Linked DNA regions of Homo sapiens: region 2 is linked to region 1. Evidence: fine-mapped expression QTL. A gene starts in region 1. The other region holds a variant in brackets. All regions are shown on one strand. Distances are from middle to middle.

Region 1 (4,000 bases):
CCAGTTTCCCTTTCCCGGAGCGCTCCCTGGTAGAAGGGGCGGGGAGGATGGGTGACACAGAATGGAGGGAAGACAGGGGGCCGGGTTGGAAGCCTAGGAGGCGTGAGCGGCCGAAGCCCAGCCCTCCTCCCGCTTCTTGCGACCTCTTACCCTCCAGGCCGGCCTGCGCGCCCGGCTCCTTCGCGGCTGGGGCCTCCTCGCCAGCCGCTGGGCTGACAGCCCGGCCCTCCTCGGACTGCCCCTCCGCTATGGGCTGCAGTCCAGGTCGGTTCTTCTTCCTTCGGGGAGGGACAGGCGGGGGTGGGGGCCGGGGCGGGACCAAAGCCCAGCCAACTGGGGGGTCTCGAGGCGGGACTGGCGGGGCTGGGGCCCGGCTTCGGGACCGGAGTTCCTTGAAGGTGGTGACTTCCCGAGGAGGTGCCGAGGAGCCGCCCGGCGACCCCGAGGGGGGGAGCTCGGTGTCGGGCGAGAAGACTATGAGCCAGTCACTGCGATCTTTCTTCGCCTGCGGGACAAGGGGCAGCCCTGGGCCCCGCTTGCGCTTCTGGGCCAGCTCGTGGAAGGACGTGATTGTCCGGTGGGGCACCGGCTCCTCGCTGACGTCACTTCTCCATCCTCCATCAATTTTCCCTGCATCTGTTTTCGAGCCAGAATCAGTTATTCTTGTGTTGGTTTTCCAACCAGAGTCGAATTTTTCAGGTTCACTTTTCCAGCTAGAGTTAACATTCCCGTTGTTTTTCCAACCAGTGTTATTGTTTTCAGTGGTTTTCCATTCAGCTTTAGTTTTCTCTGTGTCAATTTTCCAAATTGGGTTAATCTTCCAACTGGGCTCCGTTTTCCCAGCGTCGATTTTCCCATCATCCGCCTCTAAGAGCTCAGAGGTAGGGAGATCCTGCTCCGCCCTCTCGTCCTCTTCCTCCAAGCCTGGGGAAGGGACGTCCTGGCAGGTGGTCAGGGCGTTGCAGTTCGAGTCCAGGCCAGGATCGGGTGAAGAAGAAGCTCCGGAGCAGGAATCAGGAGAGCAGCAGAAGCTGTCCGGTGAGCAGGTGCCAGGGCCTGCTGAAGCCAGTGGGGAGCCCTGCTCCAGGGGGATGATACTGGGCTGAGGGTGGGCATCCTCATCACCAGGGAGGTCCCGCAAGTAGACTGAGACAGGGGACTCATCGGGGCTAAGATCTGAGCAGGAGCTGAGTGAGGAGGAGCAGCCTGGGTCTGAGGGAGAGGCAGCCCCCTCTTCCTCCTGTGACGGGTCCTGCCGGTTTTCTAGGCCCGGACCGTGCTCCTGGCAGCACCGGCAGGGCACAGCTGGGCTGTTGGAATTGGCGTCCACCAGGGTGCCACTGCAGGGGCCCCTGCTCTCCTTGCCCCCAGTGTCTCCTGGAGGAGGGGGTGTGCTCAAAGGCCCCTCCTGTAGCTCAGGACGGCGGGACAAGTGCAGGCCCAGGGAGACGTGCTGGAGGTGGATGTGGTTGAGGTTGCAGAGTAAAGCTCTCTGAGGGGACAGCATGATGCTAGCGGCGATGGGATGGCTTCTAGAGAACCAGAAGGGTAGGGTCTCTCACATCCACCTACCTGGCAACCACAGGTGCAGACCTAGAAGACAGAGGTGGTGAAGCCCGGCCAGTGAGGACAAGAGCTGCGGGGAAGGACACCGAGGTGACTTGACGGCAGCAGCAGGCCTGAAGGCTCTGGCTGCTTTGGAAGATATTTCAATGAGATGCAAATCGCAATCGACTGACCATTAGTTTCCACTGCAGTGTTTGCAGATGGAGTCGAATGTAACCCCCCGGGAATGGAGCCGGGAGGGTCAGAGAACGCGGCTGCGCTCTGGATCTCCGAAGGGGGGCGGGGGCCTGGAAGAGGTCCGGGCCCAGAATGGACCTCCAGGTCCCTGCTGCCGCAATCTGGCCCTGCCCTCCAGCCTACCCCTTACTCCCAGAGGAAGGGACCCAGGGAGACCCACCCAGATGCCCTGAAAGGAGGTGGAGGATGGGGGTGGGGCAATACGCAGAGTTTGTCTGGTGAATGCAGGAAAGGGGTGGGGGCTGGAGAGGAAAAGGATGGAGCAGCCGTCAGCTTGTCAACTCCGCATCTGCTGGCTGCCTCGGCCGGGCTCCAGCCTGCGCCCTCGCCCCTCGGAACAGCGGTATGTCCATTCTCTCCGCATTCGTCTCCATCGTTCAGCCACCACCGCACCCTTTCTCTATTCATTTCTCCTGCTCCCTTGTCCTGCCCCGCCCCTCGTGCCCAGGTCCATCGGTCTACACCCATGGGCCGAGCCCTCCTCACCAGGGTCCTCCTGGAACCGCTCCGGCCTTGGGCTTGTCCGCGGCTCCCACGGTCCCCGCCCGGCGGGGCACAGAGCGGGAGGGGAGGGGCACTAGCACAACCTACCCTGCGCTGCGCAGCTGCACCCCTTCGCGCATGGGCGTGGCGTAGCTCAGACCCGCCCCCAGCGTTTAGCGTCTTTTGTCACCCACCTAGAGGGTTTGATATATCCTAAGCTTTTGGCCCCTGGGTCCTGGTTCCGTGCAGCGAGTCCTCCCAGCACCCCACCCTGCACATTCTGGAAAGAGCCAGACTCTGGCTGGGCCGAGCAAGAACAGAACCACAAGAAGGTTACACGATTATTTATTGAGAGCCTCCTCTCCCCGCCCTTGCAATCTCTAGGTCACTTTCTCCGCTTGTAGATTTTGCGCGCAAGCCCCAGAAAGACGGCTGGGGGCAGGGGTGCTGCGTACTGTTCAATGAGAGCCATAATGTGGCTGTAACTGTCTTCCTCATATTGCAAGAACACTGCTGGCAGATCCAGCTCCTCATATAGCGCCTTCACCCGGGCCACTTTCTCAGCCTCCTTCTGCCCGTAATTTTCCTGGAAGAGGTTGAAAGACAGGAAAACGGGCTTGGCCTTCCCCAGAGCCTCCAGGACCCCTCCACTCCCCTCATTCACATATTCCAGAACATCTCCAAAGCCACCCACTCCTTTCCTCCCTCCAATTTTCAAGTGTCTCTACGTAGCTAAAATCCCAAGCTTCCCTTCCCTATCCCAAATATTGCCTCATACCAGGCATCCTCTACTCCAGGGTTTCTCCACCTTGGCACTATTGAAATTTGGGACCAGATAATCCTGTCTGGGGGAGCTGTTCTGTGTACTACATGTTTGGCAACATCTTTGGCTCCTGCCAACTAGATGTCTGTACCACATGCACACACACAGAGTTGTAATGACAATGGCAAAAAATGTCTGCTGACATTGCCAAATGTCCCCTCGGGAGGAAAACTGCCTCTAGTTGAGAACCACTGCTCTATCCCTTTCCACCAACTCAGGGACCCACCACCCTCTCTCAGGCACCTTCAGGATCTGGTACTGTTCTGGAGTGGCCCGTTGCAGACACTGAACCACCAGCCAGCTGCATTTGTTGTCCTGGATGTCAGTGCCAATTTTGCCGGTCACACTGGGGTCCCCAAAGAGGTCAAGGTAATCATCCTGGGCAGGGAGGGGGAGGGCAGCAAAAGAGGAAGGATGAGGTTCCTGGGCAGAGGAGGAGTGAAGCTGGTGCCTGTTCTCTGCTACTGCCTCCTGCCTTCTTACCTGAATCTGAAAGAACTCCCCCATCTCCAGCAGGATCTTCTTGGCATTGGCGTGCTCCTTCTCGCCATCAATTCCTGCCTGCAGGGAAAGGGGGGTTAATAAGCCAAACCCCAGGGGTGCCGGCATCTTCCTGGCTGCTTCCTCCCATGGGGTCTTGCCCTACTGCAGCCCCAAATCTTTCCTCTCTCTTCAGACATCTTGGCTTCCCTGACCTAGACAGTCCTGACTGATGGTCCAACCTCAATCCCACTTATTTTTGGCTAGGCCTTCCTGGGAGTCATAAAAGAGATGAATCCATTCTAGAGGTGCACAGCCTGTCTCTTCCCTCACAAATGTCAGTCCCCAAGTCATTCTGATCCACCTTCCTAATATTTTTGCCACCTCCAACTTCTTTCAAGATGAAAAGGA
Region 2 (4,479 bases), 540 kb after region 1:
TTAAATAAGGTCATAAGGATGAGGTCTAGTCCTATAGGACTGCAGCTCTAGGAGAAGAGAAAAAGAGAGATCCCTCTCCCTTTCTCTGCCATGTGAGGACACAGTGAGATGGCAGCCACCTGCAAGCCGGGAAGAGAGCCTGACCGTGTTGGCACCCTGATCTCAGACTTCCAGCCTCCAGAACTGTGAAAAAATACATTTCTGTTTTTTGAGTTACCCAGTCTATGATATTTTGTTTCGGAGGCCCGAGCTGTGGTGCATATTTAACCTGTGGGCAGTGTGTTTTCAGAAAGTGGTGACATGGTGCACATGGCCCTGGTGGGAGTGGGTCTGTGGTCTCCTGTCCTTTGAGGAAGCTCCTTCTGTGACATCCAAGGTCCCAATGATCTGGGTCCTGCTACCTTCTTGGTCTCACCTGGTATCATCCCTCACTTCTTTCTCACATTGGTCTTCTTTCTTTTATCTCTCCAACTCTCTAAGCTCCATCCTGCCTTGGGGTTTTTGCACATGCTGTCCCCTCTGTAATGCATACCTTTGCAAGGCTCACTTTGGATTCAGAGGTCCCTTCCATAGAGAGCCCTCCCTGTCCTGGCTGTCTGGGACTTCTCTCATTTCCTTTGCCCTGTCTTATTCTCTTCCTGGCAGGCATCACTCTCTAAAATTAAATGGTTTACCTGTTTAATATCTGTTTTCCTCCCCTGAAATGTAAGCTCTGTGGGGACAGGGGCCTTGTCTACTTGTCTTGCTATATCCCTAGAGCTTACCAAGGACTGTCACATAATGGGGGCTCAACTCATGCTCAATGAATGAATGAGTGAATAAGCTGATCGGGGCAAAGCTCCCTGCCTGTGCATCGAGCACCTCTTGAACCAGACCCCAAACACTTGATTTCCAGCATCACACCTTGTCTCTCCTTACAACTAGAGACCAGCTGGTCCATCCAAAGGATTTCCAGTCAAAGGGTTCTATGGAGAGCATGGGGTCCACTACAGAGACCTAGGCTGGAGGAGGAGGTGAGTGAGTTGATCTTTGAATGTTCTTCTCTACCCTTTCAACTACAACAGCTCTGAATTTGTCTGTTTCCCATGTTGGGCGTACATGAAAAATCTTATGAAAGAAATGGCCCCACAGCCCAGAGAAAATGGAAAACCACAAATTGCATCCAAGTCTTCACATTACACTGAGGAATCTGAGGTCCAGAGACTTGCCACACACAGATGGCCAGAGGTGGGATGCTCTATCCCTAGTGGTGACGTGCTCAGGGATCAAGAAATTCCTGCTACGTGAGTAAAAAATAGTGGCTCGCTCAAATGCCGAAACTTGGCTTTCTTTCTCTGAGAACTGAGGACAGGGGAAAGGATTTATGATCACCACTGGTCTCTGTTAGTCCCAAACAAACTTCAGACTCCATAACCCCCATGAGTGGTCATTACACACTGCAAGAGACCAAAAGTGAGCTCTGGCGAAGCGCTCAGGAGAAGCCTATCCTGGCCGGACCAAAGAGCCACTGTGGGACATCACACATGGCCCAGGGAGTGGGATGGTTTCAGATGAGG[A/G]CAATTTCTTCTTAGACACAGAGCGGGGTAGCGTGGACCCCAACGCCCTAAGCATCTTGTTTATGGTAGAATCATAGACTTCCCTGACAAGGCCTGTTCACTGGCTGGCCTCTTTTAGAGCCACCATTTTTCCACCTTTGCTTCCCAACCCCCACCCGCCTCCCTTTCTTCCTCTAGTTCCATGGAGCATTTGCTGACTGGTAATTTTACCAACCATTGCTGCAAACCCAGAAGTTCATTTCGTCACTGGCAATCAGCTCCTGTCCTCAGGGAAACCTAATTAGGTACTACAGGATTTTTGATGTTGCTTCCATGGTAACCCCCGTAGTAATGGTGTACATGCAGAATATATGCTCCAGGGTGTTTAAATTTATATATGTATATATATATATATAAAATATAAAACATATATATAAATAATATATCTTAAGAAAATCTGTAATTTTTTCTTCTTGCTTTGTTTCTGTGTCGTTTTTTTAAATGATGGAAATTTTCCCGGAAGTTCTTCTCCCCACAGAGAGAGAACAGTACACAAAAAGGCTTTTTCCATTTTCTCTCCTTTAATTTAGAGAAATTCACAGTTGTGCAAGAGTGAAAGTTTTTCAGGTTGGTCAGAAAGTGTCTAAGCAGGAATACGCTCTCCTCCCTGATAGCTGAGAACATTTTAATGACAGATTTTGCTTAAATAAAAAATCAGAAAGGTCTCAAGTCTTTCAAAATAGAATGGGGGGAAAAACGAGTGAATCCAATGAATCGACTCTAAACTTATCCTAAAAAAAAAAAAAAAAAAAAAAAAAGAAAAAAAGAAAAAAGGCAAGCTTCCCTGCATGCCTACCCCTTTGCAGGAAATGTGGGGAGGCCTCGCAAGTCTGAAGCTCGGGCTGTGCCATGTGGCTGCTGGAGGCACTGGGTAGTGTCCTTGTCTCCTTGTCAAGGCAGCCTGTCCCAGGCCCTGCAGAGATTGCAGCTGAACGGCCCTGTCCTGAGGTGTCCAGATGGCCTTCAGCGTTGGCCTTGTGGTGAGCTGGTGATGACATCTTTGCTTGGCGAGACACTCTAACCAGGGAAAGGTCAGACCTGGACTCCCTGAGGTGCAGGTGACAAGGGAGAGGGCCTGTGACACACCCACAGCTGAAAGCCAAGGGCTTCTGAAGAATCCCTGAATAACTGAAAGTGCTTTCTGTACTATCCCTCGCTGGCCGTCCAAGGATGGAATGCCATGCTGACCTCTTTGTTAGCTGCCAGCGAATCCATTTACCCTCAGCATTTGCCAACAAGGTCCACTGCTCCCAGACTCCCTGCTGTTTTTCTCCAGCGGCCCCCCTGCCCATTAATTCTGTTGTGCCCTTGTTCCCTGATTCAGTCTACCAGCTGACTTCCTCACATCTGAGAAAACACTTTGTATGCAAAACAACTAAACTGCTTGCAAAATAACTTTTTAAATGCTCTGAGTTATTCTTTGATATCTCAAATCATGTGTCCATGGGGAGAGTGGGGATGGGGGAATGGCCATCAAGGAATGGCCCTTGACCCTGATCTCCTCCCCATCCAGTCACCCAGTTACTTGAGAAGGACTGGCCAGCAAATATAACTGAGTGGAGTGGGAAGGTGGGGACGGGTGAGGGTTCCTGCTAGGGGCTGTGGCATAAGAATCTAAAAGGAAAATGTTGGGCACAGTAGGCACATGACCTGGCTTTTCTAATATGTGCCAAATATAAGAATTAGTTTTGTTATATATTAGTTTTGTTGCATAACAAAGCACCTCAAAACATAATGGCTTAAAATAATAATTTAGGTCACGTTTCTGTGGGTCAGTCATTTGGGCTGGGCTCAGCTTGGTGGTTCTTCTGCTGGTCTCACCTTGGGTGAGCTTCTGTCATGCAGCTGGTCTAGGACGGCTTCTGATGGCTGGCAGCTGGTACTGGCTGCAGGCTGGGGTGAAAGGGATAGTGAGGCCATGTGTCTATAGTGAGCCTCATGGCGATGACATTTTTTAAACCTCTGCTGTATCACACTTTTTAATGTTCCACTGGCCAAAGCAAGGTACATGGCTAAGTTCAGACGGAAGGGATTGAGAAATAGGCTGTACTGGCCAGGCGTGGTGGCTCATACGTGTAATCCCAGCACTTTGGGAGGCCAAGGTGGGTGGATCACTGGAGGTCAGGAGTTCGAGACCAGCCTGGCCAACATGGTGAAACCCCATCTCTACTAAAAATACAAAAATTAGCCAAGTGTGGTTGTGGGTGCCTGTTATCCCAGTTACTCAGGAGGCTGAGGCAGGAGAATCGCTTGAACCCGGGAGGCAGATGGTGCCATTGCACTCCAGCCTGGGTGACAGGAGTGAAACTCTGTCTCAAAAAAAAAAAAAAAAAAAAAAAAAGAGACAGAGAGAGAGGGAGAGAGAAATAGGCTGTACTTCTTGATTGGAAGAGAGGCAAAGTCACATGTACAGAAGTAAGTGAATGGGATGGGAGGAATCTGTGGCCTTTTCTGCAAGCTGCCCCCTCTGGTGTGTCTGATGCATGCCTTCCGGGCGCTGCTGAAGCCCTATGTAACCCAAGAAGCTTTTCAAATTGCATCCTAATCATGCATGTCTTTTGCTAGAACTACTTGAGATTGTGCACTGATTCATGGGACATGTGTTTGATTCAGATTTATATACCCACAATGGCCTAACCTTGTTGATTCTTAATAATTATTATATTGAACTGAGTTGGGTTAGTTCTCCTTTTTCTCTAATTACAAGCTCCTTAAAGGAAAGTTTGGAATCACTGTTGCATAAAATCTCCCTCCCAGAGCTCTCAGAATTATACTAACGGCTGAAAATCCGGCAAGTTCTCAGAACCACCAGTTAAGTGGTAGAGGGATTAGGCCTAGAGCCACCTCTGGACAGAGCAACTATCTGAGGAAAGAATGGAATTTT

Which allele goes with the higher level. Alleles are on the strand shown, and positions count from the first base shown. SD is a standard deviation of normalised expression in the study named.
In carriers of allele A in region 2, the expression in prefrontal cortex of the gene that starts at base 2,387 in region 1 tends to be higher than with G alone (moderate effect, 0.40 SD a copy in ROSMAP).

What was found. PIP is the estimated chance that this variant, and not a neighbour inherited with it, causes the effect. A credible set is the group of variants that fine-mapping cannot tell apart.
Region 2: its variant is the best candidate, but not a certain one, in a credible set for the expression of RUSC1 in prefrontal cortex (ROSMAP, PIP 0.89).

Annotation. Positions count from the first base shown.
Region 1 is chr1:155,319,281-155,323,280 of GRCh38, reverse strand. It overlaps RUSC1 (RUN and SH3 domain containing 1), which reads right to left and starts at 2,387. Exons shown (of 10, transcript NM_001105203.2): 1 at 2,290-2,387; 2 at 151-1,593. The coding sequence starts at 1,507. It overlaps FDPS (farnesyl diphosphate synthase), which reads right to left. Exons shown (of 11, transcript NM_002004.4): 9 at 3,593-3,670; 10 at 3,353-3,487; 11 at 2,616-2,872. The coding sequence ends at 2,672. RUSC1-AS1 (RUSC1 antisense RNA 1) reads left to right here. Exons shown (of 6, transcript NR_145424.1): 2 at 844-1,038; 3 at 1,586-1,656; 4 at 3,349-3,478. RefSeq lists silencers at 76-315, 2,296-2,445 and an enhancer at 697-1,680.
Region 2 is chr1:154,778,069-154,782,547 of GRCh38, reverse strand. The region is part of intron 2 of KCNN3 (potassium calcium-activated channel subfamily N member 3); the gene reads left to right. Among named protein-coding and RNA genes, the nearest start is that of KCNN3, 90 kb to the left of the region's middle. The variant A/G (reference allele first, on the strand shown) is at 1,557.